7 linked regions of the Homo sapiens genome follow. The protein of the gene in region 5 purifies or fractionates together with the protein of the main gene of each other region. This does not show direct contact. Each region holds a gene or a part of one and is shown on either strand. Other genes may lie near its edges. The genes, in order: TIMM9, ERMAP, PEDS1, SLC29A3, NADK2, POGLUT1 and MPST.

Region 1 (3,500 bases), on a different chromosome or scaffold from region 5:
CCAAGTTTCTCTAGGTAGGCCATCTTGGCTGAAAGCTAATTAGTAAGAATCTTTGTTGTGAAACAGTAACTCAGCAGCTGCAGGCATCTTCTCTAAAATGGTCTGACTTGGTACAATGTAACTGTCATTAAATTTGGCACTGTTAAACTCAATGCCGTGGTTCAGTGGCTGCTTCAGTTCTTCCAAGCAATGGAACATAAAAGGTAGTCTAAATTCCTGTAATAAGTAGGAACAAGTGAAATGCTTAAGGGGATCCTACTTAGAGTGTTTATGAAGGCTTGTAGAATTTTAGTGAGTAACACTTTTCATACCTCTTCAGGTTTTACTTCTCTTGTTGTGAAGTCTTTAACACAGTCCAAAAAGCAGGTCTCTGTAAGTTTATTGTAGGTCCCCAGAAATTCCTTAAACTACAAACAAACCAGAATGTTCTTTAGTATTTGGTTTTTAAAACAAAGATGCTTTGAAACTTAAATTACTGGTATTTTATATTTAGACAAAATATACTATAACACTTGAAATCATAGTTATTATGCTAACTTAAATGGGTACAGTATGATCTACAGAATAGTTTTATTTTCTAGTTGAATATTTAATTTTTCCTTGATTATCAGTCAGATTAAAAATACATATGCTTGGCCGGGTGCGGTAGCTCATGCCTGTAATCCCAGCACTTTGGGAGGCCGAGGTGGGCGGATTACCTGAGGTCAGGAGTTCGAGACCAGCCTGGCCAACATGGTGAAACCCTGTCTCTAATAAAAATACAAAAATTAGCCAGGCGTGGTGGCGCATGCCTGTAATCCCAGCTACTCAGGAGGCTGAGGCAGGAGAATTGCTTGGGCCCGGGAGATGGAGGTTGCAGTGAACCAAGATCGTGCCACTGCACTCCAGCCTGGCCGACAAAGAGAGACTGTGTCCAAAAAAAAAAAGAACAAGAAAAATACGTACACTTTATAACATTTAATATCCATTTTGGAAATGAAATAGAAACAATTGTTTTGTGAAACCACTGACATGGTTTTTTTTTTTGAGATGGAGTCTTGCTCTGTCACCCAGGCTGGAGTGCAATGCCACGATCTCGGCTCACTGCAGCCTCTGCTTCCTGGGTCAAGCAATTCCTGTGCCTCAGCCTCCCACGTAGCTGGGACTAGAGGTGTGCGCCAGCACGCCCAGCTAATTTTTGTATTTTTAGGAGACGGAGTTTCACCATGTTGGCCAGGCTGGTCTTGAACTCCTGACTTCATGTGATCCACCCACCTGGGCCTCCCAACGTGCTGGGATTACAGATGTGAGCCACTGCACCCAGCCTGACATGGTGGCATTAGTAGCACCTTACATTTTTTTGCAAAATCTTTTCCCCTTAATTAGAATACCTTACCTGTTTTATCTGATCAGATTCTGGTATTTGTGCAGCCATATTCTTCTGGTACCTTTATTAGTCACCTAATTTAAAAATTCAAAACAAGTTTGTCAATCTATAAACAAATGTTTTTAGTCTAACTGAAGAGTTAGGGAATCACTGCTCGTATTTTATAAATCTGTGTATGTAATTGTATGCCACCACCCCCAATTTCTCAGATCATTAATGACCATAGAACCTTACAGTTGAGAATTAGATTTTCTTTTTTTTTTTGAGACGGAGTCTCACTCTGTCACCAGGCTGGAGCGCAGTGGCGCCATCTTGGCTCACTGCAACCTCTGCCTCCGGGTTCAAGCAATTCTCCTGCCTCAGCCTCCTGAGTAGCTAGGACTACAGGCACACACCACCATGCCCAGCTAATTTTTGTATTTTTAGTAGAGATGGGGTTTCACCATGTTGGCAAGGATGGTCTCGATCTCTTAACCTCATGATCCGCCTGCCTCGGCTTCCCAAAGTGCTGGGATTACAGGCGTTAGCCGCCGTGCCCGGCCAGAGAATTAGATTTTCTAATGCTAGTTTGGGACTCAAAGGCCCTGTCTATCAAAATCTCCAGTTTTAAGATAGTTTGCTCTGCTACCTTGCTAAGCTGCTTGTTTAAAGCCCCATTCCTAGGAGGGTTATAAAGGAAACCAAGATGGTGAAGTTTGGGCTTAAAAAAATAATTAAAAAAAGCTGGGTGTGGTGGCTCATGCCTGTAATCCCAGCACTTTGGGAGGCCAAGACATGTGGATCACTTGAGGTCAGGAGTTCAAAACCAGCCTGGCCAACATAGTGAAACCCTATCTCTACAAAAAATACAAAAATTGGCCAGACGTGGTGTCATGTGCCTGTGGTCCCAGCTACTTGGGAAGCTGAGGCAGGAGAATCGCTTGAACTCAGGACGTTGAGGTTACAGTGAGCCAAGATCACACCACTGCACTCCAGCCTGGGTGACAAAGTGAGACTCCATCTCAAATAATAATAATAATAATGATAATAAAAAGAAAAATAAAGGAAATCAAGAGATTTTTGCTGTTTTCCTAAAATTACTTAACTATTCCACTAGTCACCAAATTGCTTATTTTAAATTTTTTACTATTATACTCAGTCGAATACATCAAAAATATCAAAGATTTTAACATTTCAACATACAATCACATAAAAAGTATTAATAAGACATTTTACGTTCCTTTTCTGGTAGTAAGTCTTTGATTTTGGTGAGCATTTTACACTTACACCACATCTCAATTTGAATGCTAAATTTTCATCAGAAATACTTGGCCTATATTTAGATTTAATAAAATCTATTGTTGAAAAAGTAGATTCATATATCTGAGCCACTCCAAATACACTTAAAATTAGTTGCTAATTTAACTCTGACCCTTACTACTAATGATCCTTTTACAATGTAAATACAAAGGTTCTATTAATAGTTAACAAACACCAGTTAACAAACACCATTTGCTTAGAAATTGACAACCCTCATGAAGGATATTCAGAGTTTTAAAAGAAAGTTACAGGAATTATACATTCTACTACACATTCTCTAGTTCAAAAAGGGCAATCACAGAGACTAATCAGAGACTTCTAATTATAATCTAACGTGGCGGCAACAGGGAAGGGAAGACAAGTAAATAAAAAAGCCTTTCTGAATTCCTGAGATTTTCACATATCCTAAATGTAGGACTTAGGTTCAGTTAATCTAGATATAAGAATGTGTATAACATTATTTATTTACTATATCCTGGCTAGTTCTAAAAAGGTTGAGCATTTCATATAAAAGATTTGTATTTGTATAGGCTGGGCGTGGTGGCTCACGCCTGTAATCCCAGCACTTTGGGAGGCTGAGGCGGGCAGATTACGAGGTCAGGAGATCGAGACCATCCTGGCTAACACAGTGAAACCCCGTCTTTACTAAAAATACAAAAAATTAGCTGGGCGTGGTGGTGGGCGCCTGGAGTCCTAGCTACTTGGGAGGCTGAGGCAGAAGAATGGCGTGAACCCGGGAGGTGGAGCTTGCAGTGAGCCGAGATTGCACCACTGCACTCCGGCCTGGGTGACAGAGTGAGATTCCGTCTCAGAAAAAAAAAAAAAAAAAAAAAAA
Region 2 (4,184 bases), on a different chromosome or scaffold from region 5:
CCTCAAGGCGCACGTCAAGGATCTGCAGAGTGACACTTCCCTCTTGGGCATCTCTCACTAGCACCGTCCTCCCCTTATATTCCGGCATCAGATCTTCATCCTGGTCCTTCCCATCCCGGAATATGTGAACAGCCTGGGAGCGCTGCGGGAATGGGGACCGCAGCCACCTCACCTCCTTGGGTACCGTCCCGGGCCAGAGGGAGAGAGGGCAGAGCAGCTCGGCTGTGCCCCCTAGTAGGGCCACGTGGAACTTGCCGGCATCCCCTGCGTGGCCTGGACAAAAAAAGAGACAAGGCCAACTGGGAGGGACGGCAGGAGAAAGCTTGGGAAGGGATGAGGAAGAGGATATCCCGGGGACGGACAGAGCCCAGGAAGGACTCTGGAAAGGATTGCCAGGGCCGGGGGAACAGAACCCCAAAAGACATAATGTTTCCAGCCAAGCTTCCTTATTCTGGGGACGCCAATATCACATGTACCAGGCAGGGAAAGAGGATCAGAAACTCCTACCTGACACATGCACAGACAGCCGGAGGAAGACGAGAGGGATGAGGCAGCCAGAGAGCCAGGAGCCAGCAGAACTCGCCATCTCCATCCGAACTAGGACAGACAGAGGGAGACAGCACAAGCGGGCTGATGGGCTTGGCGTGACAGAGGGTATAACCCAGGAGCCGAGGCCGAGACGGTATTGCTGGTGCTCTGGGATCACAAAGGCCGGGGCTCCAATCCCAGCTCTGCTACTTACCTCCTTGTGATACTGTGACCGAACTTCTCTGAGACTGTGTTTCTTCATCTTCAAAATGGGTAAAAGAACTGTGCCTCCTTGTGGGATTATGGTGAGGGTTGAAAGAGGTAAATGCTCACACAGAGGCTGGCGTGTTAAGTCTCTAAATGCCGTGAGTGAGGATGTCAGTGCAGATGAGATGAGTGAGGATCCAGAACTTATACCCAGAACTAACCAAGGAAACACCAGTAATGGCCTTTTTTTTACAGTTGGTGTCCAAGGCCAGGCTTGGGAAATGCCTGTTTCAAGCCAATCTTTGCCCAAGATGCAGCCTGGAGGTTTCCCTGACAGCCTTTTCCAGTTTGACTCTTGATAAATAACAGATCAAGGCAGTGAGGTCCCTCCATGTCATCCTGAAGGCACTAATCCTACAAATTCAGGGTCTGGCGCTGGAAAGACCTGGGTTCAAATCTTAGCTCTACCTATTACTAGCTCTGTGTCCCTAGGAAGGTTGCATAACATCTCTGGACCTCGGGTTCTTAATCTATGAAGGGAAACTGTCCTCACAGATGAGTGTGAGGGTTCAAAAAGATACTGCCTGCCAAGCACTGGCCACAAATGCCTGGCAGAACAACTGCTCATAAGTGTGTAGTTGTTGTTATTATTACTAACCAAGTGAGGAAAATTATCCCTAGCAGGTCCAGATGACCGTGTGCATGAATCACAGGGAGACCCTAAAGGATTTCCTCCTGTAAAGCTCTTTCCCCACCTATTTGCTACTGCCTGAAATTGCTTTAGCAGGAAACAGAATCTCTCATGCCACAAGTGAGCATAAAGTTTAAAATGTAAATGCTCTAGGAAAAGGCAACTCATCTCTTAAATTCTCTCCAAGGTTCAAATCCTTTCCAAAGAGGAGGCTTTTGTATAAGTCAGAAGGCCCAGTCCCTGAAGGTCATGGAAAAGGTCATGACACACGGAGGGGGTGTCAAAGGGAGACTGGGAAACTGAAGATGAAGCTAGCGTTGAACACATTCTCATTTTAAACACCCAATTCTGTTTTCTCATGGCAAAAAGCACACTGGTTTAGGGTTGTTCTTGTTTTTCTTTAAATCATATTTTATACAACATACCCCTCTAAGCAAATGACAACATAGCACTAGGTCATAGTGAGGTTAGGATCACATTAGGACACATTTTTTTGTGACTGTCCCACCCACTTTCCTATAGGTTACTAGCTACTCAAAAACTGGACAAGAGAAGTTAAGTAAATGAGAAAAGCTCTCTATTTTATCAATTATGGTTGAAGGTGGAAGTAGGGCCCAGGATTCCCTGGCGTTATCCCTAATCCCAAAACCCCTCAACTTTCTAGTGACTCTGAAGCACACCCTGGGTAGACATGCTCAGAGTGACCCAGAGCTCCAAGCTAACCCAAGGCTGCCTGAAATCAAATAGAAGGAGACCTCTATGGACCCATATTCCAAGATTCAGACAATCTATGAAGTGGTTAAGAGGGTGAGCTCTAGGCTGGGCATGGTAGCTCATGCCTATAACCCTGCACTTTCGGGAGGCCAAGGCAGGAGGATCACTTGAGCTCAGGAGTTAGAGACTAGCCTGGGCAACATAGTGAGACTCCATCTCTACAAAAAATAAAAGAAAATTAGCTTGGCATGGTGGCACGCACCTGTAGTCCTAGCTACTCAGGAGGTTGAGGTGGGAGGATTTCTTGAGCCTGGGAGGTTGAGGCTGCAGTGAACTGTGATTGCACCACTGCACTCCAACCTGGGTAACAAAGCAAGACCTTGTCTCAAAAAAAAAAAAAAATTTTTTTAAAAAAAGAATGAGCTCTAGAGTCAGCCTGGGTTCAAGTCCTGGCTCTGCCATTTCCTAACTGGTGGCCTTAGACAGGTTAGTTTACTTCTCCAAACCTCCTCTTGCTCACACATGAAATGAAGTTAATAATAGTACCTACCTCATAGATAGGGTTATAGTAAGGATCAAAGAAAATACATGTAAAATGATTTGCACCAGATGCTGGAAATAAAAAGCAAATGAAGTCCTTCTGTTAGATTGTCACTCCATGTAAGAAGTGCTACCAGGTCCTTTTTTTCATATTTTCTTACACAGATGTAAGAACCATCTGGTCACCATACTGACCTCCAGGATTTATTCTTCTAATCTAGTTTGCCAGGATGGCCCCTTCCTCCATCTCTTCTAACATGTAACATATCAATATTATAGTAGTCAACATCCTATTAATGGCTGTGAAGTAACACTAAATCATAAATATGTTTCTAATTATGATATTGCTCTAAATCAATAATAGTTCTTATTTATTGCATTTGTTGTTTCTCCATATATATTGTCTTCAGTACTGACAACATCTCTGAAAAGTAGGTATTATTCTCTTTTACACTTAGAACAGGAAAGGCAATCATACACACTTCAGGGTACCATGCAAGTGAATTGCCGGGATCCTTTCTGGAAGCAGATAGAATGTAAAACATGGATAAACAGATGAATGAATGCATGCCTATATAGCCCTGTATCATGAGTTATAAAATGAGCAAATGACCACCACACTTTACTGAGTGATTATCATGGAACTCCTTTACAAAGAAATTTTCCCCAACAAATATAAAATATGATTTCACTTCCTAAAGTTCAATGTATATGCCACAGTTTGGGGCTTTTTCTGTCTTACTTATTGTAGGAAAATCTGGAAATGATCCAAAACAAGGACAAAAATGTCAAATCATCTGTAATTCCTCCACCCAAAGATAATGTTTCTATAAATATTCTTTCTATGCATGTACATAACTTTTTGTAAAACAAACAAACAAAAACCATGACTGGGCACAGTGGCTCACGCCTGTAATCCCAGCACTTTGAGGTAGAGGTGGGAAGATTGCTTGAGCCCAGGAGTTTGAGACCAGCCTGGGCAACATGGCAAATCCCTGTTGCTACAAAAAAATATAAAAATAAATCAACTGGCTGTGGTGGTATGTGCCTGTGGTCCCAGCTACTTGGGAGGCTGAGGTAGGAGGATTACCTGAGCCCAGGAGGTTAAGGCTGCAGTGAGCCATGATCACGCCCCTGCACTCCAGTCTGGATGACAGAGCAAGACCCTGTCTTAAATAAATAAGTAAATAAATACTTTATATACTGTTTTGATACCTGATATTTTCACCAAGTGCTACATTATGTGCATTTCCCAAGGCAATCAAATCTTCTTTACATGACTTTAGGATTCCATCATGGACATAGAATTTTAGAAGTTAGGATATAAGATGTAAAAGCTTTAAAATAATTCTATATTGAGGACATTTAGGTTGTTTTCCAATACATCGCTATTATAAACATTGCTATAAGTGACAGTGGATTGAGGGCTAGAATCAGATGGCTTAGTCCTAGTCTTGGCTTGGTCCCTTACTGCTCTGTGATTTTGTAACTTTTTTTTTTTTTT
Region 3 (4,184 bases), on a different chromosome or scaffold from region 5:
TGCCTTGGGGTGGGGAGGAAGGGCGGAGGTTGTCTCCAAGCCCCCTTACAGCACAGGTAGGGAGACTGAGGCCCAGAGGCAGACAGTGCCAACCCAAAGCCCTTCCAGGGTCATTTCGGCTCATCTCCCCAAAGGCTGGATGGGGTCTGTGTCTGGCAGTGGGCCAGGTGGGAATGTTCAAGCATCCCGGGTGGAGGAAACTTAGGATCAAAGGCGGGAGGTGAGCCCAGGGTGAATGTGTTTAGGGGGCTGTGGAGAGCAGCTGACCACCTTAGGCTGACTGCTGGGGCTGTGTCCCCCTCAACTCCAGGCTTTCATCCGACCCTTCCGGGAGCACCACATTGACCCGACAGCTATCACACGGCACGACTTCATCGAGACCAACGGGGACAACTGCCTGGTGACACTGCTGCCGCTGCTAAACATGGCCTACAAGTTCCGCACCCACAGCCCTGGTGAGACACCCAGCTAGTGGTGGGCTGGGAGGGGGCCTTGGGGGCAGAGGCCGACCCCCAGGAGCCTTCTGGGGCTTATGTGTTTGGCTCCTTATGGTATTTTAAAAGAGTTTTCATTCATTGTCTTCATGTAAAATCAGGAAACCTGACATGAAGATGGAGGTTTCCAGCTTCTCTTGCACAATCTGCTCTGGCCCCCCTGGGTCCATGTTCCCACCTGGCCTCACTGGGTGGGAGCTGAGCTGCAGCCACTGCCTTTGACAGGACGCGTCTTTCCAGTTTACCACCGTCCCCACTATTCCTTGCTTCCCTGCACCCAACCCACCTTGTTCATTTGTGTTACCTGCCTGGCAGGGCTTCTGGGGTTTTGCTACCGTGGCCTAGTGGAAAATGTCTAGGCTGTGAAAACAGGGCCTGCCTATTTTTAGAGGGACTGGTCCCAAAGTAAGTGATTTCACCACTCTGAGCCTCAGTTGCCTTATCTGTCAGGTGGAGGTAGGTTGGGGCCCGGTCCTGTTCCAGCACCTTAACACCCATTTGTTCTTCAGGCAGCCTCCGGTGGGTAGAGGTGGTGAGGACGTGTAGTGTAGTGGGTGCTATGGCACCCTGCCCATCCCCTTCCCTGGGGGTGCACCCAGCCCCTGCTTCTGTGAGTGGTGGCTGCTGACAGCTCCCAGCTTCTCCAGGGATGGAGGGGAGGTCCCACCTGTCTCCTTGGGATAAGGCTGGAGCCAGTGACTGAAACGCCTCCGACGCTAGTCCCTTTGCCTCTGAGTGGGTCTAATTCTAAAGAGCCGTTAACACCTCAGAGCTCCTTGCAGGAACAGACTGAGACAGGACGCCACCCACCCCATCTTTGCTCTGCTCTTCCCCTGCCGTGTCTTGCTTCCCTCCCTCCCTTCGAGGTTTTTTCCTGAAGAGGCTCCCTTGATAAATCACATGCACAAGAACCTGTTTCAGGCTCCGCTTCTAGGGAACCTGGGTGAAGGCATCATTCCCATTTTCCTGATGGGGAAATTAAGCTTCTTAGAGGCAGAGTCACCGATCCAGCCCATACTGCCAAGAAATGTCGGCAGAGATCGGAACCCAGCTCCAGCTGACTCCGGTCTACATTCCCAGCCATTGCCATGCTTATGCCATTATCCTATTACACCATTACGCCTGCTTCCTGAGCAGGAGGAAAGCCTGAAGCCCAGGGCAGCACCTGAGCTTGCCTGCGGCCCTGCAGGGGGTGGAAGAGAATCCTGGGTGCTTGCCCAGCTCAGGAGCCGCCCAGGAGCAGGTGGTGAGGGCCATTTGGGGTGGGTTCCCCGTCCCGAGTGACAGCTGTGCCGGCCCCCCCTCTCCCCAACCTGCAGAAGCCCTGGAGCAGCTATACCCCTGGGAGTGCTTCGTCTTCTGCCTGATCATCTTCGGCACCTTCACCAACCAGATCCACAAGTGGTCGCACACGTACTTTGGGCTGCCACGCTGGGTCACCCTCCTGCAGGACTGGCATGTCATCCTGCCACGTAAACACCATCGCATCCACCACGTCTCACCCCACGAGACCTACTTCTGCATCACCACAGGTGCGGCCACCAGTGGCGTGGAATGGGCTTTCCCCACCCCAGCCACTGCACCATCTTCGAGGTCAGGAGGGCAGAGATCACAGCAGGAGGTCACACAGTCCTTGCCCTCTGGGAACAGTCTCTCAGGTCATGCATTTATTGAGCACCTACTGTGTGCCAGGCACTATTCTAGGTGCTGAGGACACAGTAAATGAGACTGACAAAGCCCTCTCCCTCGACTTCATGGCGTTGTGATTCCAGCCACCCATCATCCCGTATTTATTGAGCACCTACCACATGCCATGGTGCTTTGGGCGTAGGCTCCTGCAGCAAACAAAATAGCATGAATCAGCTGGGCGCAGTGGCTCATGCCTGGAATCCCAGCACTTTGGGAGGCCAAGGCGGGTGGATCACTTGAGGTCAGGAGTTGGAGACCAGCCTGGCCAACATGGTGAAACCCCATCTCTACTAAAAATACGAAAAAAAATTAATTGGGCTTGGTGGCAGGCACCTGTAATCCCAGCTACTCGGGAGGCTGAGGCAAGAGAATTGCTTGAACCTGGGAGGTGGAGGTTGCAGTAAGCTGAAATCGCACCACTGCACTCCAGCCTAGGTGACAGAGACTGTCTCAAAAAAAAAAAAAAAAAAAAAAAAACCAGAAAACACGGATCCTTGCCCTTGTGGCACTCACCATCTAGTGAGGGAGCTGGAACGAATGAATAAAATGTGTAGCGTGGCTAATGGTGCTAACTGCTATGGAGGAAAATAAAGCAGGGGTGGGAGAAGGAAGTGGGGGCTTTGCCTCTTAAATCGGGTGGTCAGGGAAGGTGACACTTGAACAAAGACCCCGAGGAGCTGAGGGACAAAGCCGTGCAGACCTCTGTGGGAGGCACTCTAGGCAGCAGGAACAGTAGGTGCGAAGGCCCTGAGGCTGGCCTTTGCTTGCTTGGTGTGTTTCCGGAATGGCAAAGAGGCTCCTGACTGGAGTTGAGGCAGAGCAATGGAAGAGGGAGAAGCGGGCAGAGCAGTGGAAGAGGGAGGAGAGAAGGGGGCAGAGCAACTGAAGAGGGAGGAGAGAAGTGTGGGAGGGCCCTGAAGATAGATGAGCACAGATTAGAGCAAAGGTAACAGGAAGCAGCAGGCCAGAGGCAGGAACATGCCCAGTGCAGTGGAGGAAGGGAAAGGAGGCCCACGTGCCATGCTCAGTTAGCAGCCAGTGCGAAAGAGGTGAGGTGAACTGGGAGTTTCTCTGGAGCCAGCTGGGCTGCTTTCAAGGTTAAGTGTATCAGGTGCTGTCAAGTCTAACTCAGGCCTAACTCTCAGCTTCTCCACATGTGCCTTTAGGCAACTCACAAACCTCCCTGGGGACCGCTTTTCTCCTTACAAAATAGGGCTGCAGCCGCCTCCTTCATATATCACCTTCTTAGGGCCATAGTGGGAATGGCAAATGCGGTGTTTGGCATATAGTAGGTACTTGATAAATTACAGCTACTATTTTTTTTTAGGTCTTTCTGGAAACAGAACTGAGAACCACAAAAAAACATTCTTTTTCATGTCCTCAATTTGTGCTCCTTGGAAGGCAGGTGGAGGGATTAGAATTCAGGCTATTTAGGAGATGGGTTAACTACTTAGGCAGGGCTGAGTTCCAATCCTGGTTTGGCCACCTGCTAATTGGGAAACTCTTCTCTAAGCCTCAGTGTGCTCATGTGGAAAATGGGACTGATATTAGTATCTACCTCATGGTGAGCTGGAAGGCTGTAAGATTGTGAGCAATATTTATTCAGCACCTACTCTGCGCCTGGCTGTATTCTAAGCACTGAGGATCAGCAGTGAAAGAACATGGTGTTTTGCATTTTGGGGATAACGTTCCAGTTGGGGATTGGGGGGTGAACAAACACAGAACAGGAAAATAGAGAATTAACGAAGATGGTTACAGGTTATCATAAAGGCTATAAAGAAATGAAAGAGGGTGGCCTGTCATGGTGGTTCACGCGTGTAATCCCAGCACTTTAGGAAGCCAAGGCGAGAGGATTGCTTGAGCCCAGGAGTTCAAGACCAGCCTATATAAGACAAGACCCCATCTGCATTAAAAAAATTGTAAATAGAGCCAGGCTCAGTGGTTCATGCCTGTAATCCCAGCAGTTTGGGAGGCCGAGGCGGGTGGATCACGAGGTCAAGA
Region 4 (4,848 bases), on a different chromosome or scaffold from region 5:
ACACATATGTATTTGTATATGCACAGAATATCTCTGGAAGGCTACATAAGAAGTTTCTAACAGTGGCTGTCTCTAAGGAGGGAAACTGGGATGGTGGGGGGCGGGGAGGGGGACTTCCCTGCATTCTTATTTGTGTCTCTTGAATTTTGAACTATGTGACTAGTTTATTACCGGTTCAAAAACAAAATTAAAAGTGTAAATTTAAAAAAATTCAAATTAAGTAATAATTGTTTAAAAAACTGGTAGTGTCCAGGGCTGCCTCCAGAAGCTGGTGTGTAGCCTCTGACAGTCCATTCCCATTTCATTTGTGAGGAAAGAGAGGTCCAAAGAACTGAAGGCCATAGGCCACGTAAATGGCCAAGCCTGGGTTTGCAGCTCCTGCCTGGGTCCCACCTCTGCTCATCACACCCTACAAGGAGCCAGCCACTTTCAATCTATGGTAGCGCCTAAGATAAATGGAAGAGCCTAGGCTGCCAGCAACTATTGCCTACATGGCCTTGGGCAAGTTACCACATTTCTGTGCCTCAATTTCCCCAAATGTAAACCCAGAGAAGCTGTTTTTATGATAGTTATGCAACTGCAACTGGCTGGCAATGCCTGGCCTATAAGCAGCTGTTGAACAAATGTCAGCATCTCCCTGGCATCCTGGGCCTGTCGCATGGCTGGCTGGCTGGCTGCTGAATTTGGCTGTAAGGTAGCATGCCTGCTTCTTTGCTCTACATAGCACCTAGGATGTGGCAGCAGCTTGATAAATGAGAAATGTCTCCAAAATGCTGAGGATGGGACACTTCAGAGTCCCTTCTGCAGTAGCCTCTTCCCCACCCAATAAACTAATAAATAAATGCATCTTGGTTTCTATAGGAGGCTAAGCCTAACTCAAAGCATCGTACCAAGAAGACTGGGGCCTTTATTCCCTGGTGGGATGGGAACACCTCCTCACATGGGTGCAGAACCTTATCCACTATTTCAGGAGAACCTCAGAGCATCCCTTGGAATTAGGCAGGGCAGAAAACATTGCCCCCTTTTTTCAGATGGAAAAACTGAGGTCTGGAAGGCACTTGCTATGTCCCACAAATAGAAAGAACTCCCAATAGCTAAACTTAAGTCCAGTGATCACAAATGCCAAGGTCTGTGCCTAACAGAGGTCACACTTGAGGCTGACAACAGCCTAATATATTAGGTACTACTCTAAGACCCATTTCACAGAGGGGTCTGAGGCTCAGAAAGGTTGAGTAACTTGCCCAGGGTCACATAACTAGTAGATGACAAGAGTGAAGTTACACAGCCAAGCAGACTGGGGCCCATGCTGGACTCCTCAGCACACCGGGGAGGACTGGCTGGGAATGGGAATCTGTGTCTGCTGGTTCCAAGTACAGGCATCCTTCCTGCAAGCCTTGAAGCCAGTGAGTCGGGAGGGGCCCAGGCACACTGCAGGCACCCTTGTCAATGTTTGCTGAATGAACGGACTCTGCACGACCAGGACATTCTCCCCTGCTGGGGTAGCATGTACCCTGGAGCCAGCAGGTGGGGGGCCACTGGATGCCCAAGTGCAATGCATCCAGCCAGCAAGTCTATTTTAAACTCCCCTGGTTAGCAGAGCCCCTCCCCAGCCTGGATTCGCATGGAGGCCAGCATTAACAAGCTCACTGTCTGGAAGCTCACTGTGTGGAAAATCGCTTTTTCCACATGCACCCACTCATAGAGGAAAAGCCATGTGAAGGCACAGCAAGAAGGAGGCTGTCTGCAAGCCAGGAAGAGAGCCCTCATCAGAAACCAAATCAACCAGCACCTTGATCTTGCCCTTCCCAGCCTCCAGATCCATGAGAAACAAATTTTGTTTAAGCCACCCAGTCTATGCTATTTTGTCTGGCACAAAATGGTACAAATGTAACAAGCTCACTTGTTACATTTTAAAAATTAGTGTTTAAAATGTAAAAAATAATCATGACCCACCCACATAGAACAAGAGAGAACCGGCAAGTGGTTCTTTCCAGAGGCTCCAGCTACCTGTGGGGGCGGCTAGAAGGTCCACCAGCCCTGTCACTCAGGACCACACCTGGCTAGGGCCCCCTTCTCAGTTCCTAGCGTCTATTTGTCAAGGCTTGACTGAGCTTCTGAAGAAGGAGCCAGGAATTTTCTCTAACCAGGGTCACAGGCCAGGGCACTGGAGTGAGCAAAGTCTTATTAGTCTTTATAAAAGCTAGCTGCTGGCTTCTGGATTAAAAAATAAAGAGAAAGGCAGGCAAGGAAGTGCCCAACCTTCCCCAAAACAAGCTGGCTGTGGCCTGGAACGTGCTCCTGGGTCACCTGCGGGAGCCCGGCCATGCACAGACAGACAGCCCCACACAAGGAGGCAGGCACTGCTGGGGCCGCGGCAAAACCTCATCTGGGCTGGGAAGCCTGGGTGCTGGTTCCAAGGAGGTTCCTGACTCTGGCTAGGTGGCTCGCCCCTCTGTGCCTCGATCTCCTGGGCTGTGAACCGGGGTGGGGAGCTGGTAGGGCTAACCTGTGGGAAGGCACTGGGAAGCGCAGGGCACCGCCTACTGGCCGCGGCAGAACCGGCTTTGCGGTGTAAACAGCCCCAGCCTCAGGCCCCGCAGCTGGGACCGAGAGAATCAGCCACCGTCTGGATACTTCGGGCCGACGGGTCCATACCAGGCCCCCACCATACAGGCGGTGAGGTCCAGTCTCAGGGAGGAGGAGGGGAGAGGATTTGGGGAAGAGAAGATAGAGACCCAGAAAGAGGGGTGGCAGAGAGCAAGGAGAGAGAGGAGGGACGGTGGGGAAGGGACCACGGATGGGGTAGGGTCCTGCGGCTCCCCTGGCAGCCCGCAGCCGCCCCCAGGGCCCGGGAGGGAGGTCGCTGAGCGCGAGTCTGGGGGCGGCCGGGACCGTAGCCGGAAGAGCCCGAGCCGGCCCGCACTTACTGTCGCCGCTGCGCCACGCCGCCGCTGCCTCCGGCGCACGGCCAGGACCACTGGGCTTGGCAGGCGGCAGGCGGGCTCCTCCCCCGGCCCCGCCCCGCCCCTCGCGGCAGCACGCCGCCGCTTCCCCGTTTGCAAACACGCTTTTTTCCTTTGTCTTCTGCCGGCGCGCCGGGGCTCCCCCTTCTGGCGCTGAGCTGGGGCCTGCGTGCGCCCATTTTATAGGAGAAAAAGTGAGTCACCCAGTCTTAAACGCACTGCCCATGCTTGCGATGGGTGCGCTGCGCATCAGGCCTTTTGGTTGCTGCTCCTTCTTTACCTTGGAGCCAGACCCCACTGTCTCAGACCTCCCCTTTAGCTACTATAACCTGCACCCCAGGACTCAAAGGAGCCCTCATCTTGTCCCCAGGCCGCTGCAGAGACCCCTCTCCAAAGGCCGCTTCTACCCTTACCGGCTGCCGCTGCTCTGGAGGTGAAGCGGGACCCACACCCGGACTGAACTGGGCCTCCCAGGCCAGGCAGCTATTTTCAGTAGACCCAGAACATGGCAGTCAGCAATTCCAGCCCTCACACTTGACCTCAGCCATAGCGTGTAACACACAGCTGCCGCGTGTTCTTTAAGAAAGCAGGGGCCGGGCGCGGTGGCTCACGCCTGTAATCCCAGCACTTTGGGAGGCCGAAGCAGGCGGATCACCTGAGGTCGGGAGTTTGAGACCAGCCTGGCCAACATGGCGAAACCTCGTCTCTACTGAAAATACAAAAGTAGCCGGGCATGGTGGTGCGTGCCAGTGATCCCAGCTATGTGGGAGGCTGAGGCAGGAGAATCGCTTGAACCCGGGAGGCGGAGATTTCAGTGAACCGAGATGGTGCCACTGCACTCCAGCCTGGAGCCTGGGCGACAGAGCAAGACTCCATCTCAAAAAAAAAAAAAAAAAAAAAAAGGCGGAAACCTTCCTGACTCCCGGTCCTGGCCCAGTTGGCCTATTCAGAGCGGGGATCTGGATGCTTCACAGGGCCTGAAGATCTGTGACCATGGATAGTAAATTCTTGCAGTTGCCATCCCAGGGCTCAGGGGTGCCACAGAACCCATTGAGGCTGTCAGTGTGTGGACAGGTTCTCAGAACATCCCCACTCCCTGCCCCAGCCTCTCATTTTATAACCACCATTCCCCAAACACTGGCCTGATCATAAAAGTCTCGAGTACACATCCAGATTCTGGGGACCTCTCCCCAGGAGGGTTGCTGCCACTCCCCAATCCCTGAGGGTGGTGCTGTATCTGCTTTGTTTGCTCTTCCCTCATCGTGGGCACATAATTTGTGTTCAATAAATACCTGGATTAATACAACCCATCACTCAGGGGGTGCAGAATGGGGATCCAGAATGGATCTATTTAACAAGCTCCACCAGCAGGCGAGTTTGGAGACTAGCACCCTAAATTGTCAGAAAGCCCCCCGGCCCAGGAGAGGAAGGGGCTTAGCTCCAGGCTTACAAGCTGAGGGATAATGGTAAAATTACTAAACCTCTCTGAAACCCAGGGTCGGCTTAGGACTGTCGGGAGAATTAAGTCAGGTGATCCATGCCAGGCACTCAATGCAAATTTCCATCACTTCCAAGGAAGACACTCCCCACCCCCAAAATGTGATAGTGTATATGTTAGTTTAGTCATCAGGCCTTATTTTTAGCCTCTTTACGTTGGAAAAAAATCCTCTAATATACAGAGCATTTTCATGAACAGTCTCCCATTTGATTCCACCCCCCCACCCCAGTACCCAGTGAAATGGGACTGTTGTCCCCATTTTACAGATGAGGAAAGCCAGGCTCAAAGAGGTCAAGTGGCTTCCCAGGGCACACAGCTGGCAGTGATGGAGTGGCAGAACCCAGAGCCAAGGCTCTTTTTGTCATGCCCGGTTACAGGCAGGCAGGT
Region 5 (4,184 bases):
CCCATACTCAGAATGCAATAGCATTAGTTGTAGACCAGATGAGAGATTATTAACAGGCCAAAGAATACTGGGCTGTGTGAAGCTGTCCTAAAATGGGATTCTGTAATAGGAGTGATAAGATGATAAGTATTATTTGTTATATTGCTGGGGTAGAAAATACTAAGTTATGTGAATCATGTGAATTGGATGGATATAAAAGAAAGTGGCCAAGTGCTTGAGTCTCACCATGGCTGCTGTGTCTATAGTGTCATGGTAACTTGGTTTTTTGTCAAAGCATTCTCTTTTGTTGTCGTGGTGGTGGTTTTTTGATGTAAAACAGGTCTGTTTTAGGCTATTTGTTAAAATGCAAATGGAAGATGAAGGATAGAGTGCCAGTATAATTTTATACCCTGAAGGCTGATGATTTTCTAACTTTGTAGAAATGTAAACAATTACAGGAAATATTTTTTAGTTGATAAGGCATGCACAGAATAGGTTTACAACCTTCAAGCTAGTCAAAGTTTTGACTTTTATTTACCGTTTCATATTGGTTACATTGCTTTATTTTAAAATCTTGTCTTTTTCCCCATTGATTGACCAGTGACTTATTTTGTGATATCAGATTTCTGGTCAAACATTTTACCTCTACTGTCTCATGACCTTTCAAAGGCCAGTAAAACTATTATTACAATTTACTTGCATCATTAAGAGATGTAGCTGTTGGCAAATGTGCAATTGCTATTAACAGGGTCCTTGACACAAATTAGAACTCTAGATGAAACAAAACTGACTTGGAAAGGATTTTGACACCAGAAACATACCTCATTGGTCAAAAAAAGGTTTTATTTAAAGCTCTTTTTCACCTGTCACCAGGGATGGGGAACTGAATAAGGAAAAAAAATTTTAATGTAGAACAAATAAGAAGTCAGCAGTTTCTGCCCTCCTCTCCATCATTCCAGGTCTCACAACTCGGCAACCCTTTTACTGGTTCCTATTTTTAGTTTTGTTTTTTAAAATTCATAATGGGATAGAATAATTTCATTTAACAGTCTGCCGTGTTATTGGATTAAACTAGATGACTTGGAAGGTGTAGCACCTTGGATTTCCCTTTTGTTTTCTGAAGATTTTGTGGCTTAGGTTGTAGCACTTGGGCAGATAATACTTTTGCCACAGGGTATGCAATAAGCGTACCATGGTATACTTTTGTCAGGTGGTATACTTTTGCTACATTGTATGCAATAAGTATATTACATACAATATGATTGTTAATCAAATTAAAGAGCATGATTTGGAGTACTGCCAGAGCTTTCTAACTGAATCCTTGCTCCTCTCAAATCTTCTAGACACAGTTACCAGAGTGTCTATCTAAAGTGAACATCTGGCCCTTTCTCTCTTTTGCTTGGAACTCCACAGAAGCTCCCTGTACCCTTTAGTCACCAAGAGTACTTGTTAAAATGCAGACACCTGAACCTTAGCCCCGCAAGACTCTGACTCAGTTTGTGGAGAATTCCCAGACTTTGGTTTTATGAAGCACACACCTGAAATTAATGACTCCGGCTGAATTCCAGGGATGTGTTTTATCCCTGGTTGGCATGTGGTCCCCAGTTAAACTGAGAAACACAGTTGTGGGCTCAAGTTCATGATCTTTAGAATGGCAGATAAGTCCCTTCATGAACTGGCTATCTCTTGAGCTTCACTTCTGATCACTTCTTGTCTTAAATTTCATATTCTAGCAATTTCAAACTGTGTTAATTTCCATTAGATGTTGTACTGATTTAGTTTAATTTATGGATCAGTAGCACATAAAATGATTCAAAATATAAAAGATACAAAATATTATACAAAGAAGTCTTTCTGTTACTTGTCATTTGTCATTCAGTTTTGTCCCTGGAAGTAACTGTTATCAATTTCTTGTGTTTTCTTCCAGAAGCAACCTATACCTACAAATCAGCACAGTGAAATATTCTTTTTCTTTGCCTCATCTCTTTTTATTCAATGATAATATACTATTTAAGCTATTATGTGCCTTTTTTTTTAGCCTAACAGCATTTGTGGAGATTGTCATAAAGAACATTCCCATTCTTTTTAAAAATAGTATGTATGTTACTTTATTTTGTGTCCTAATTTATCTTCTGCTATTAAACACATTCTGAAATGAATAACATTTGTGTTTATATGCATGTAAATCAAGCTCTAAGACAAATACCTAAAGTTGAAATTGTTGAGTCAAAAGCCTTGTGCATATAAAGTTTTAACAGATTTGGCCAAATTGCTTCCCTTAGAGATTATACAGATTTTTACTTTCACCAGCCCTGTATAAGGGGACTTATTTTTCCATACATAGTTCATTAAATTGTTGGGTCTTTGCCAACCTGGTGGGTGAAAGATGGTATTTCAGGGTGGTTGAATTTGCATCTCTCAGTGTCTATGTGTCTACTTTTGTAGCCTCCTTTGATTTGAATGCTCTTCTTCCTCTATCCAATTCCTGTTTTTTTTTTTTTTTTTTTTGAGGTTAAGCTCAGACATTACTCTCTCAGGATGCCATCCTTGGTAACCTTGCTGTGCCTCTGCCTTTCTCTGGCTACCAAGATTGTGTTAGGCATTCTTCACTTCATAATACTTATCTGTGATTATTTTCTTTTCTAAACTGTAAACTCTTTGAGGGCAAGAATTGCATCTCCTTTATCGTCCTCTCCACCCCCATACTTCCACTAAAAAAAGTAGTAAAATGTTTCTGATGTTCTGTTAAGATCATTTTTAGGTCTTTTCTCCTTGAGCCTGGGGACCAGCTTCCTTCTAGTCCAGGGCCTTATTACCAGCTGTCTGTCTTTCCAGATGTTAGCTGCTGAAAGCTTAAGTCAGAGTTTAAGCCTTAAGCTTTGGATTCTTTGATAGAGGTTTCGGGTTAAATGTCTTTGAAAAACATGAGCCCAAGCAAAAGATGATTTTTATTTGACTATGGGATTCTTTTTGGTGGGAGGGAGCAGAAAATGTTTTAAATTCTGTGGAACACAACTTGGAAAACAGAGGTTTAAGGTATACTCCCTTTCTATAAATACTTGCAGTTAAATAGGAAACTCACAAAGATGTAGAAGAATTAAATATCACAGTAGCTGAAGTGTCACCATTAGAGAATCATTGACCAACATGCTTCACAGCCCTGATGTTCAGCCTTCACTGTATATAAGCATTATCTAGGGGGAGGTTTTAAAAACTACAAATATGTGACCAGCCATGAGATTGCAAATAACAAAATTTTTCACTGTTATCATTTTACTATATTTTTAATTATATAAATTAACTTCTAATAGTTGTGTTTGATGCACATTAATCTCTTCTCAACTAGTAAAGTGTAAATTGACTTTATTTGTCACTATCAGTGAACTTTGTAATGTACAACGGAAATATATAATTTCAAAATATCAGCAAGTGTGCCAGTTATTTCACGCTTTAGGAAAATTTATTTTTTATATATATATATATATATATTTTCTTCATAATAAACCACTAGATATGGATTATGCAGGAAAATAGACCAATCTTTGTAAAACATTTGCATTGAAGGAGGGTTCATCCAATTGGCTCTCCTCTTCCTAAATGAAAGGTGGTAGAATTAGGTCCTGATAAAGAACAGAATAGTTGTTGAGTTATGTAACTTAGTCATCACAATTGAGGCTTAGTGGCCTAATGAGTATTCACAGTTCTCAAGCAGGAGTAAGATATATGGCTAATGTAGGAATGTTAGTAGTATGTGGCTGCATGGATATAACAGAGTAGACAAATCCTGCTTTAACAGCAGAAGATCAGAGTTTTGATCCTGAAAGCACAATCTGATGTCTTTGTAATCTTGAGCAAGTAACCTAACCTCTCTGAATCAGTCTCTTTGGCTTTGAAATATTTATAGTAATACCTGCTTTTCCTTTCTCACATAATTTTTAGAAAGGTGAAATAATTTACAATTTACATAATTTAACTTAAAGCTGCATAATCTAATTCCAGTTTAGCCACAATAATGATCATTATGTAAATGTTACATATATTTAAATTATGTACCTGAAATAGCATTGATTTGGTTAACTCCAAAGTAGATTCCTTTACTAAGATAGATCACTTAAGTGAACTAAAAATATGTTGATTTTTAACTCTGCTTGCGTAGTGTTTTTTTAACCAAAATTTTAAAGAAGTTATCATTTCAAAGTAATAGA
Region 6 (4,184 bases), on a different chromosome or scaffold from region 5:
AGGTAACAAATGAACATCATTAGAGATTCTAAACAGAGGGTTCTAAAAAACAAAATTGTATTTCTATAACCATGAATAAATTCAATTGAATAAAATGGGAAGGTATCAAAAGAAAAAAGTATTCATATAAGATTAGACTTTAAAACATTCTATCTGCCTAAAAATTGCTTACTAGTTTACCTGGGGGAAAATGGTATTAATAACTACACGGTGGAGTAACTGGATAACACCTTGACCCCAGGAGTTTGAGTCCAGCCTGGGCAACATAGTGAGATCCTGCCTTTTAAAAATAAACAAACAAACAAATAAATAAAGTGACTCTTTCATATGTACTGACATGAAACAAAGACATGGAAAGATTACTTAGATACACCAATAAGTTAGGGGGAAAGTTGCCTGAGTTATACATATTTGTAAAATTTTATGAGCATATATAGGTTTCATAATCAGTAAAAATGTTTTTAAAGATTTTGAAAACAAAGCAGCTGCATGGCAGGTGGGAAAAGAGCTACAAAAAGAAGAATGTGAAAAGGGTATTTGCAAGTACCTGAGGAGGGGGGGAAAGGATTAGAAAATTAAGGCCAAGGCCAAGAATAACTTAGGGAAAAAAAAGTTTAAAACCTTTTTTCCAGCTTAGTGTGGTGGCTCATGCCTGTAATCCCAGCACTTTGGAGGCCAAGGTGGGAGGATCACTTGAGCCCAGGAGTTTGAGATCAGGCTGGGAAACATAGCAAGACCTGTCTCTACAAAAAATTTTAAAAAACAACCAAGAAACAAAAAAACCACACCTTTTTCCCCCCCTCTCAAAATTATGTTCAAAACCCAAAAATAAACAAGAAATGACAGTCTCAATGTCAGGAAAACACAAGGAATATTAACCAGTAAAGTAGGTTGGATAATGCACTTGGAAACCTGGTCTTTAGGCCTAGATTTGCTTCTGACCTTGACCAGATCACTAAACCTTTCTGTACCTTCATTCCCTTATCCCTGAAATAAAGGGCTGGACAAAGACAATTTCTAGTTCCAGTTCTGTAAAATATGAGACTAAGTTATTATTTTTTAAAATTTCCAAATTATACCCACTAGAGAAGTTTGTTTTTTAACAAAGGGCTCTACCCACCACTGAGGACTGCAGCCCTGTACGTTTCTTCAGGAAGGGAATATTACCTTAATCCTCTTTGAATCTTCAGCCACACTTGGGAGAGGTGATAGGTATTTATGGAAACAAGGTTGAATTGTTTGCTTTCCTTATACCTGAGAGAAGGCCTATAATGACTGTGTTTCCGGAAGTTCTCTAATTAAGCACCAAAGTTGTTTGAATCATGATGTAAAATGTAGCTAGGTAAGAAATACCTACAGCTTGGATGAGCTACACAATCTAAATTCTGAAATGATAGCAGGATGGAGTCAACAGGCCAAGGCATGTCTCAGTCATGAATCAGAGAGGATCTGGAATAAGCTTGTACTTGAGATGCTTATGGGACATTTATGCTCCCTCAGCCCTGCCTAAACTACTTAGCTCTCAATTGCCAAGTATGTTTATATTCTTCCAAATAATTTTCTATCCCCCCTATGACGAGGTCATTCATTTTTTCTTACTATGAAAGAATGCACTCTTATTTAAAGAATCTTAAGTATAGAAAAATTGAAAATACTGACTGAGCACAGGGGCTCGTGCCTGTAATCCCAGCACTTTGGGAGGCCGAGGTGGGTGGATCACTTGAGGCCAGGAGTTCCAGACCAGCCTGGGCAACATGGCAAAACCACATCTCTACTAAAAATACAAAAAATTAGCCAGGTGTGGTGGCACATGCCTGTAATCCCAGCTACTCGGGAGGCTGAGGCAAGAGAATTGCTTGAACCTGGGAGGCAGAGGTTGCAGTGAGCCGCGATAGCACCACTGCACTCCAGCCTGGGAGACAGAACATGACTGTGTCGCAAAAAAAAAAAAAAAGAAAGAAAAATTTAAAATACAAAACAAAAGTCTCTGATAATCCCTTGCAAAGAGGCATTGCTGATAGTTTAGGATAGACTATTCTGCCCCTTTCTATGGATATGTAAATATTATTAGACACGTACAAAATTGTTTACACTACAGTTTTCTGTCTTTAATTTTTAACTTAAAAATTAGTCACTTAAAAATAAATAGGCTGGGCGCGGTGGCTCACGCCTGTAATCCCAGCACTTTGGGAGGCTGAGGTGGGCAGATCACCTGAGGTCAGGAGTTCAAGACCAGCCTGACCAACATGGAGACACCCCGTCTCTACTAAAAATACGAAATTAGCCGGGTGTGGTGGCACATGCCTGTAATCCCAGCTACTCGGGAGGCTGAGGCAAGAGAATCACTTGAACCTGGGAGGCGGAGGTTGCGGTGAGCTGAGATCACGCCATTGCACTCTAGCCTGGGCAAAAAGGGCGAAACTCCGTCTCAAAAAAAAAAAAAGTAAATAATTGGTTATATTCTATGGCTTATTTCAAGAAAACCCAGAAAGAGAAAAAATAAAACCTCTTTAAAGGACCTACCTTACCAGATCTTCTCTGAAGAGGTCCCACCGTCCAAGACCTGTAGGATAAATTGGCCAAACAGCAGGTCCCCCTTCCCAAAATGTCCAAGCAGGATACATGATATCATGGTACTCTGATGTCTTCAACAAAAACAGACAGGTCGTCCTAAATCAGTCTTGGAACAGTGAAAAGAGGCAACTGCAATCATGCCACAGGATCTGGACAGCCTTGGTTTAGTGTCACATTGTCAAAGATATATTTTCCCTATTTTCCAAAGTCTAGCCTGTAGACATTAAAAGGCAAAAGTGACTATGGATTAAAAGTCATGGGCTCACTGAATTCCAGAATTCAGAATCACATTAAAGGTCAGCTTTTTCAGTTCCCCCAAATTCTGTTTTTCTAGAGGATATATACTGTTAAGATTTCCAATTTAAGGAAACAATATGCCCAATTCTGAATAATCACAGAGCTCTCTCATTGTTTAACTATTACATTTAAGAGTTTACACTGTCTTACCAGTTTTTGGTTATTTCCCAATGGGTTTTTTTGAGAGTAAGAGCCAAGAAATACATGCAATGGTTAAGAGTGTGGGCTCCTGATGTGGATCACATGGGTTTGGATTCTGACTCCACCTCTTTACAGCTCTAGGCAAGTTACTTAATGGTTCTATGCCTCAGCTTCCTTATCACTGTAATGGGGGAAACAATAATATCAATAATATGATCTAACTAAAAGGTTTATTTTGAATATTAAATGAGTTGATACACGTAAAATTCTTAGAACAGTAGCTGGCACATTGTACATACTTGATAAATATTGGCTAGTGTTATCTCATACTATGGCACTGTTGGGCTCACATTGATTGGTCAATAAATTCTTGGTTATTCACTGATCGGGGTCAGAAGTATGGATGAGCAAAATGAGAAGGGGTGTTATCACATATCTTTTGAAAGAAGTTTGAGGTTGGGCACGGTGGCTCACACCTGTAATCCCAGCACTTTGGGAGGCCGAGACGGGTAGATCACCTGAGGTCAGGAGTTTGAAATCAGCCTGGTCAACATGGTGAAACCCTGTCTCTACTAAAAAATACACACAAAATAATAGCCGGGCATGGTGGCAGGTGCCTATAGTCCCAGATACTCAGGAGGCTGAGGTGGAGAATCACTTGAACCTGGGAGGTGGAGGTTGCAGTGAGCTGAGATCGCGCCACTGCACTCCAGCCTGGGCAACAGAGTGAGACTCTGCCTCAAAAAAAAGAAAAAAGTTTAAAGCCATATGTTCCCCCCTTTTTTTTTTTTTTTTGATCCACCTGCCTCGGCCTCCCAAAGTGCTGGGATTACAGGTGTGAGCCACTACACCTGGCCTCCATTTGTTCCCTTTTTATGGTTACTTCTGTTAAAAATCTGGCCACTGATAAACCTCTAACTCTACTATTTCTTCCACTGGAAATACATGTGCAATATGCTGTTTGCTGTCTCTCAAATATGTAAAAAATGTGATTCATCAAGCACCTTAAACATAACAGCTATTCAATAGAAGCTGCACAATTAACTATAAAGTTGACAGAGTAAAACTCTCCCTTGGAAACTAGAAGTCACTGATTTAAAAAACAGAAGGGAAGTAAAGATGAACGGAAAGTTAGTATACCGACGGTCATACTTTATTATCCATAGAAACAA
Region 7 (4,184 bases), on a different chromosome or scaffold from region 5:
GGTGAGGGACAGCTTGCTAGGGGCTAGCTCAGTCACAGAAGTGGGGAGCTCTGGGGCCCCAGCACTGCTTGGAAGGCAGAGACAGGATCTCCAAGACCCTCAGGCTCCCCAGAGTGACCTTTGCTGGGCATGACAGAACCCCTGGCTCCTTAGGAAAACCGAGGCAGCCCCAGAGCTACAAGATTTAGCACTTGGTTATTTTATTTCCTCAAAAATAAAACAGAAAGGAGGCGGGGCCCCAGCTCAGCACCAGGTGGGCAGCTCGGAGTTGTGGCCTCCCTCCTCCAGGGCTCGCCTCCGCCTTTCCTCCCGCCCCTACTGGCAGCCAACAAGTCAACGGAATTCCTGGCCTTTGAGATGTCACCCCAAATGCCACCTGAGTTGAGTGAAGAAACACTCTCTTGGTGAAAGCAGAAGCGGAGCTACCAGGCCAGGCATTGCTGGTGGCCGGCATCACCTGAGCTCGCCTGTGTCCTGCCCAGCTTCAGTGGGTCTTCCCCCGGCCCTCTGAGATGACATCCTCGGGCCGGGCGCGCATGTACCACTCCACCCAGGAGCCATCGTAGATGGGCACGTCTGGCTTGCCGCAGAGGTAGGCCCCTAGTGCCACGTGGCAGGCTGTGACGCCAGAGCCACACGTGGCCACCAGTGGCTTAGACAGGTCCACTTTCTTCTCCTGGAACAGATGGCGGATCTCCTCAGGGCTCTTCTCCAGCCCCTCCTGGCTCAGGAAGTCTGTGAAGGGGATGTTCACGGTACCTGGGATGTGGCCAGGTTCAATGCCTACAGCAGGGGAGCAGGGAGGAGGGGACAAATAGAAGGATGCTATGAATGGTACCTCGTATTTGTGGTGCTCGAGATATTGAGAGCATCCCATGCAAGCATGGTGCTAAATCCTTTATATCCACCATCTCATTTAATTCTCACAACCATAAAACCTGAGCACTGTTTAGAGGAGCCCCCATTTTATACACGGTGATGCTGAGGTTAAGTACCACCTGAGGCTAACACATCTAGCAAATTGCTGACTGAACTTTGAACCTAAGAACTGGGCCCCAAGGTTTCCTGACTATGCACCCTAGGGACAGCAAAGCAATAAACAAGACCCCTGCCTAGCTAGAACGTGCAGTACCTGCAGGCAAGGAGCTTTAATCTGGCAGGGCAGACAGGCAACTGAATAATTACAAGCATAATGGGTGTTCCAAAAGTGCCCTACTGGGTGGCCTGGGGCATGTAAAAAAAAAATAACGCCAGTAACAGCAATAGCTGATATTATTATTACTGAGACAGGGTCTCATTCTGTTGCCCAGGCTGAAGTGCAGTGGCATGATCAAGGCTCACTGCAGCCTCAACCTCCTGGGCTCAAGCAATCCTCCTGCCTCAGCTTCCCCCCGAGGGGCTGGGACTACTACAGGCACATGCCACCATGCTCAGCTAATTTCCTTTTTTTGTTCTTTTTTTTTTTTTTGAGATGGAGTTTTGCTCTTGTTGCCCAGGCTGGAGTGCAGTGGCATGATCTTGGCTTACTGCAACCTCCACCTCCTGGGTTCAAGTGATTCTCCTGCCTCAGCCTCCTGAGTAGCTGGGATTACAGGCACCCATCACACCTGGCTAATTTTTGTATTTTTAGTAGAGACGGGGTTTCACCATATTGGCCAGGGTGGTCTCGAACTCCTGACCTCAGATGATCCACCTGCCTTGGCCTCCCAAAGTGCTGGGATTACAGGTGTGAACCACCACGCCTGGCCTAATTTGGTTTTTATAGACATGGGGTCTCAGTATGTGGCTCAGGATGGTCTTGAATTCCTGGCCTCAAGTAATCCTTCTGCCTCAGCTTCCCAAAGTGCTGGGAATATAGGAGTAAGCCACCTTGCCTGGCCAATAGCTGATGTTATTGAATGCTTACTTTCTGCCAGGCACTGTTTGGAGACGGTCAGCTATACTTTCTCCTTGAATCCACCCCAAAATTCTCTGGGAAAGAAATTATTATCCTCTCTTTTGTAAAGATGAAGAGAATGAAGTACAAAGACTAGCTTGTGCAAGCTAGCAGAGGGCAGGGAGGAGTAAACCCAGGCAAGTCTATGCTTCCCACCTTCACGCCACACTGGCTGGGGGCTCAGTGGGTGGAGGAAGTTTCTCTGAGAATGCCCCGAAGGATGAGTAGGATTCAGTCACATAAAGGGGTCTGGGTGGATGGAGGCCTAGAGCATCCCAGGCAGAGGGAATCTGAAAGGCGAGGGAACCACCTGTTGCCCGGAGGGGTTAAAGGTCATTGTCACGAAAGCCCAGACAGTGAGAAGCCAGAGGCCCAAAGGGGAAGCTGAAGGGGATGGGAACGCCTTAGCAGGCCTGGAGTAAGACTTGGGGGCTTTGACCTGACTGCAGGGGGAACTCAGGCTTCTGCGTTTACTTTTTTACTGTTACTTTTAATTTTTTTTATTGAGAAGGGGCTTGCCATCATGTCCAGGATGGTCTTGAACTCCTGGGCTCAAGGGATCCTCCCACCTCAGCCTTCCAAAGTGTGAGGATTATAGGTAGGAGTTACCTTGCCCAACCTAGATTTCCATTTTTAAACGATCATTTTGATTGTAGCAGAAAGAATGGGATGGGAAAGGCCCACACCTCTGCAGACTCCCAGGGTGTTTTTTGTTTTCACTGCCCCACCTTGAGGCAGGGGTTACTAACATTCCCATTTTCATGCAGGACTGGGATTTGCAACAAAATAAACCTTCACAACTAACGCTTGGGCTGGGCACGGTGGCTCACGCCTGTAATCCCAGCACTTTGGGAGGCCGAGGGGGGCAGATTACCTGAGGTTGGGAGTTCGAGACCAGCCTGACCAACATGGAGAAACCCCGTCTCTACTAATAATACAAACATTAGCCGGGCGTGGTGGCACATGCCTGTAATCCCAGCTACTCGGGAGGCTAAGGCAGGAGAATCACTTGAACCCGGGAGGCGGAGGTTGTGGTGAGCCGAGATTGCGCCACTGTACTCCAGCTGGGAAACAAGAGCAAAACTCCGTCTCAAAACAATAACAACAACAACAACAGAAACAAACACAAACAAAAAACCCCCCAAAAACGAATGATTCAAATCTGAGCCATTCAGACTCTTGTCCAGCTTCTGCCTTGGTTTCCCTCCGCAGTGGAGTGACACCCCCACAGGAGCTGCTGACCCATGTATCGGTATCTATTCTCAGACCCTGGCATAGAGACAGCACTCCCGAGTCTGTGGAGAGGCTGGAATGGGTCATGCATCCCACCTAACAGACACAGTTACCGGGCTTGGTCAGATATCACATAGAGACCAGCCCAGAGCAAGGAGGAGGAACAAACTCTCAACCCAGGGTGGTGACTGTAAAGGGAGGGCCATCCCTACACCTTGAATCCCACCAAGCAAAGCATGTTTCCCCTGCCTGCTGGACTGGTGTGGCACATCACAGGAGCACTTGGCCAGGCCTCAGGCTGTGGAGTGGGAATGATGACGACAGTGACATTCATCACTGATCCAGCTGCAGTGAGCTTAGTTTGTTTTGACAACAAGCCTGCTAGGCGTGTATCACCTCCCATTCTATAGATGAGCTAGTGCGACTGAATAAGTGTCAGGCACAAGTGTGCAGCACACTTGTGCATGAAAACCCGGAGCTGAGTGCTTTACACACTTGCTCTCCTTGCCCCTATCATGTCTTTATGCTCTGTGTTACTGCTCCCATTCTACATAGGCAGAAGCTGCAGTTCAGAGACATTAGATGACCCGTCGTGTGTCACAAAGCCCATGTAAATGTGGCAGGGATCTGAACCCCAGTCTGGCACCACCAGCTAGCTCCCCTGTGTTGCTCATTCCCCTGGGGCTGAGATGGAGAACCCAACAGGATTAAGGTGGTGCTCTCATTAGGCTGAACCACATGAAACTGACACCTGTGTAGGTTCAAAAATGGTTGGATATCAGCTGTTTCCTATGGTTCCGGTAACACCAACATTGCTTTGCAGGATTCCATGCAACAGGGACCTTCTGTATTCACCAAACCTCTCTGGAACATCGACTCTGTGCCAGGTACTGAGCTAATCTTCAGGATGCATGAAGAGCAGGGACAGTCCTTGCCCTCAGGCCATCCAAAACAATGCTGGCCCATGGTGAGCCCAAGCGGCTCCAAACCCAATCTGTAGCCATGGGAATGCTCT

What was found.
Region 1: the proteins of NADK2 (region 5) and TIMM9 fractionate together in Homo sapiens (co-fractionation; one large-scale study listed by BioGRID). This does not show direct contact.
Region 2: the proteins of NADK2 (region 5) and ERMAP fractionate together in Homo sapiens (co-fractionation; one large-scale study listed by BioGRID). This does not show direct contact.
Region 3: the proteins of NADK2 (region 5) and PEDS1 fractionate together in Homo sapiens (co-fractionation; one large-scale study listed by BioGRID). This does not show direct contact.
Region 4: the proteins of NADK2 (region 5) and SLC29A3 fractionate together in Homo sapiens (co-fractionation; one large-scale study listed by BioGRID). This does not show direct contact.
Region 6: the proteins of NADK2 (region 5) and POGLUT1 fractionate together in Homo sapiens (co-fractionation; one large-scale study listed by BioGRID). This does not show direct contact.
Region 7: the proteins of NADK2 (region 5) and MPST fractionate together in Homo sapiens (co-fractionation; one large-scale study listed by BioGRID). This does not show direct contact.

The regions. Positions count from the first base shown.
Region 1 is NC_000014.9:58,410,532-58,414,031, forward strand, and holds part of TIMM9 (mitochondrial import inner membrane translocase subunit Tim9), read right to left. Parts: intron 1,441-3,500; 5' UTR 1,415-1,440; coding exon 1,376-1,414; intron 408-1,375; coding exon 312-407; intron 1-311. UniProt on the Homo sapiens protein: Mitochondrial intermembrane chaperone that participates in the import and insertion of multi-pass transmembrane proteins into the mitochondrial inner membrane.
Region 2 is NC_000001.11:42,826,857-42,831,040, reverse strand, and holds part of ERMAP (erythroid membrane-associated protein precursor), read right to left. Parts: exon of another isoform or gene 791-4,184; coding exon of another isoform or gene 593-790; coding exon 508-592; intron 274-507; coding exon 1-273. UniProt on the Homo sapiens protein: Possible role as a cell-adhesion or receptor molecule of erythroid cells.
Region 3 is NC_000020.11:50,125,817-50,130,000, reverse strand, and holds part of PEDS1 (plasmanylethanolamine desaturase 1), read left to right. Parts: intron 1-310; coding exon 311-455; intron 456-1,813; coding exon 1,814-2,026; intron 2,027-4,184. Other genes in the region: PEDS1-UBE2V1 (TMEM189-UBE2V1 fusion protein), read left to right, coding at 311-455, 1,814-2,026. UniProt on the Homo sapiens protein: Plasmanylethanolamine desaturase involved in plasmalogen biogenesis in the endoplasmic reticulum membrane.
Region 4 is NC_000010.11:71,317,390-71,322,237, reverse strand, and holds the start of SLC29A3 (equilibrative nucleoside transporter 3), read right to left. Parts: upstream 2,980-4,848; 5' UTR 2,929-2,979; coding exon 2,928-2,928; exon of another isoform or gene 2,507-2,927; intron 1-2,506. UniProt on the Homo sapiens protein: Uniporter that mediates the facilitative transport of nucleoside across lysosomal and mitochondrial membranes. Functions as a non-electrogenic Na(+)-independent transporter.
Region 5 is NC_000005.10:36,235,171-36,239,354, reverse strand, and holds part of NADK2 (NAD kinase 2, mitochondrial), read left to right. Parts: intron 1-4,184. UniProt on the Homo sapiens protein: Mitochondrial NAD(+) kinase that phosphorylates NAD(+) to yield NADP(+). Can use both ATP or inorganic polyphosphate as the phosphoryl donor.
Region 6 is NC_000003.12:119,478,512-119,482,695, reverse strand, and holds part of POGLUT1 (protein O-glucosyltransferase 1 precursor), read right to left. Parts: intron 3,520-4,184; exon of another isoform or gene 3,022-3,519; intron 2,789-3,021; exon of another isoform or gene 2,646-2,788; coding exon 2,524-2,645; intron 1-2,523. UniProt on the Homo sapiens protein: Dual specificity glycosyltransferase that catalyzes the transfer of glucose and xylose from UDP-glucose and UDP-xylose, respectively, to a serine residue found in the consensus sequence of C-X-S-X-P-C.
Region 7 is NC_000022.11:37,025,815-37,029,998, reverse strand, and holds the end of MPST (3-mercaptopyruvate sulfurtransferase), read right to left. Parts: intron 3,001-4,184; coding exon of another isoform or gene 2,942-3,000; exon of another isoform or gene 2,900-2,941; intron 784-2,899; coding exon 485-783; 3' UTR 184-484; downstream 1-183. UniProt on the Homo sapiens protein: Transfer of a sulfur ion to cyanide or to other thiol compounds. Also has weak rhodanese activity. Detoxifies cyanide and is required for thiosulfate biosynthesis. Acts as an antioxidant.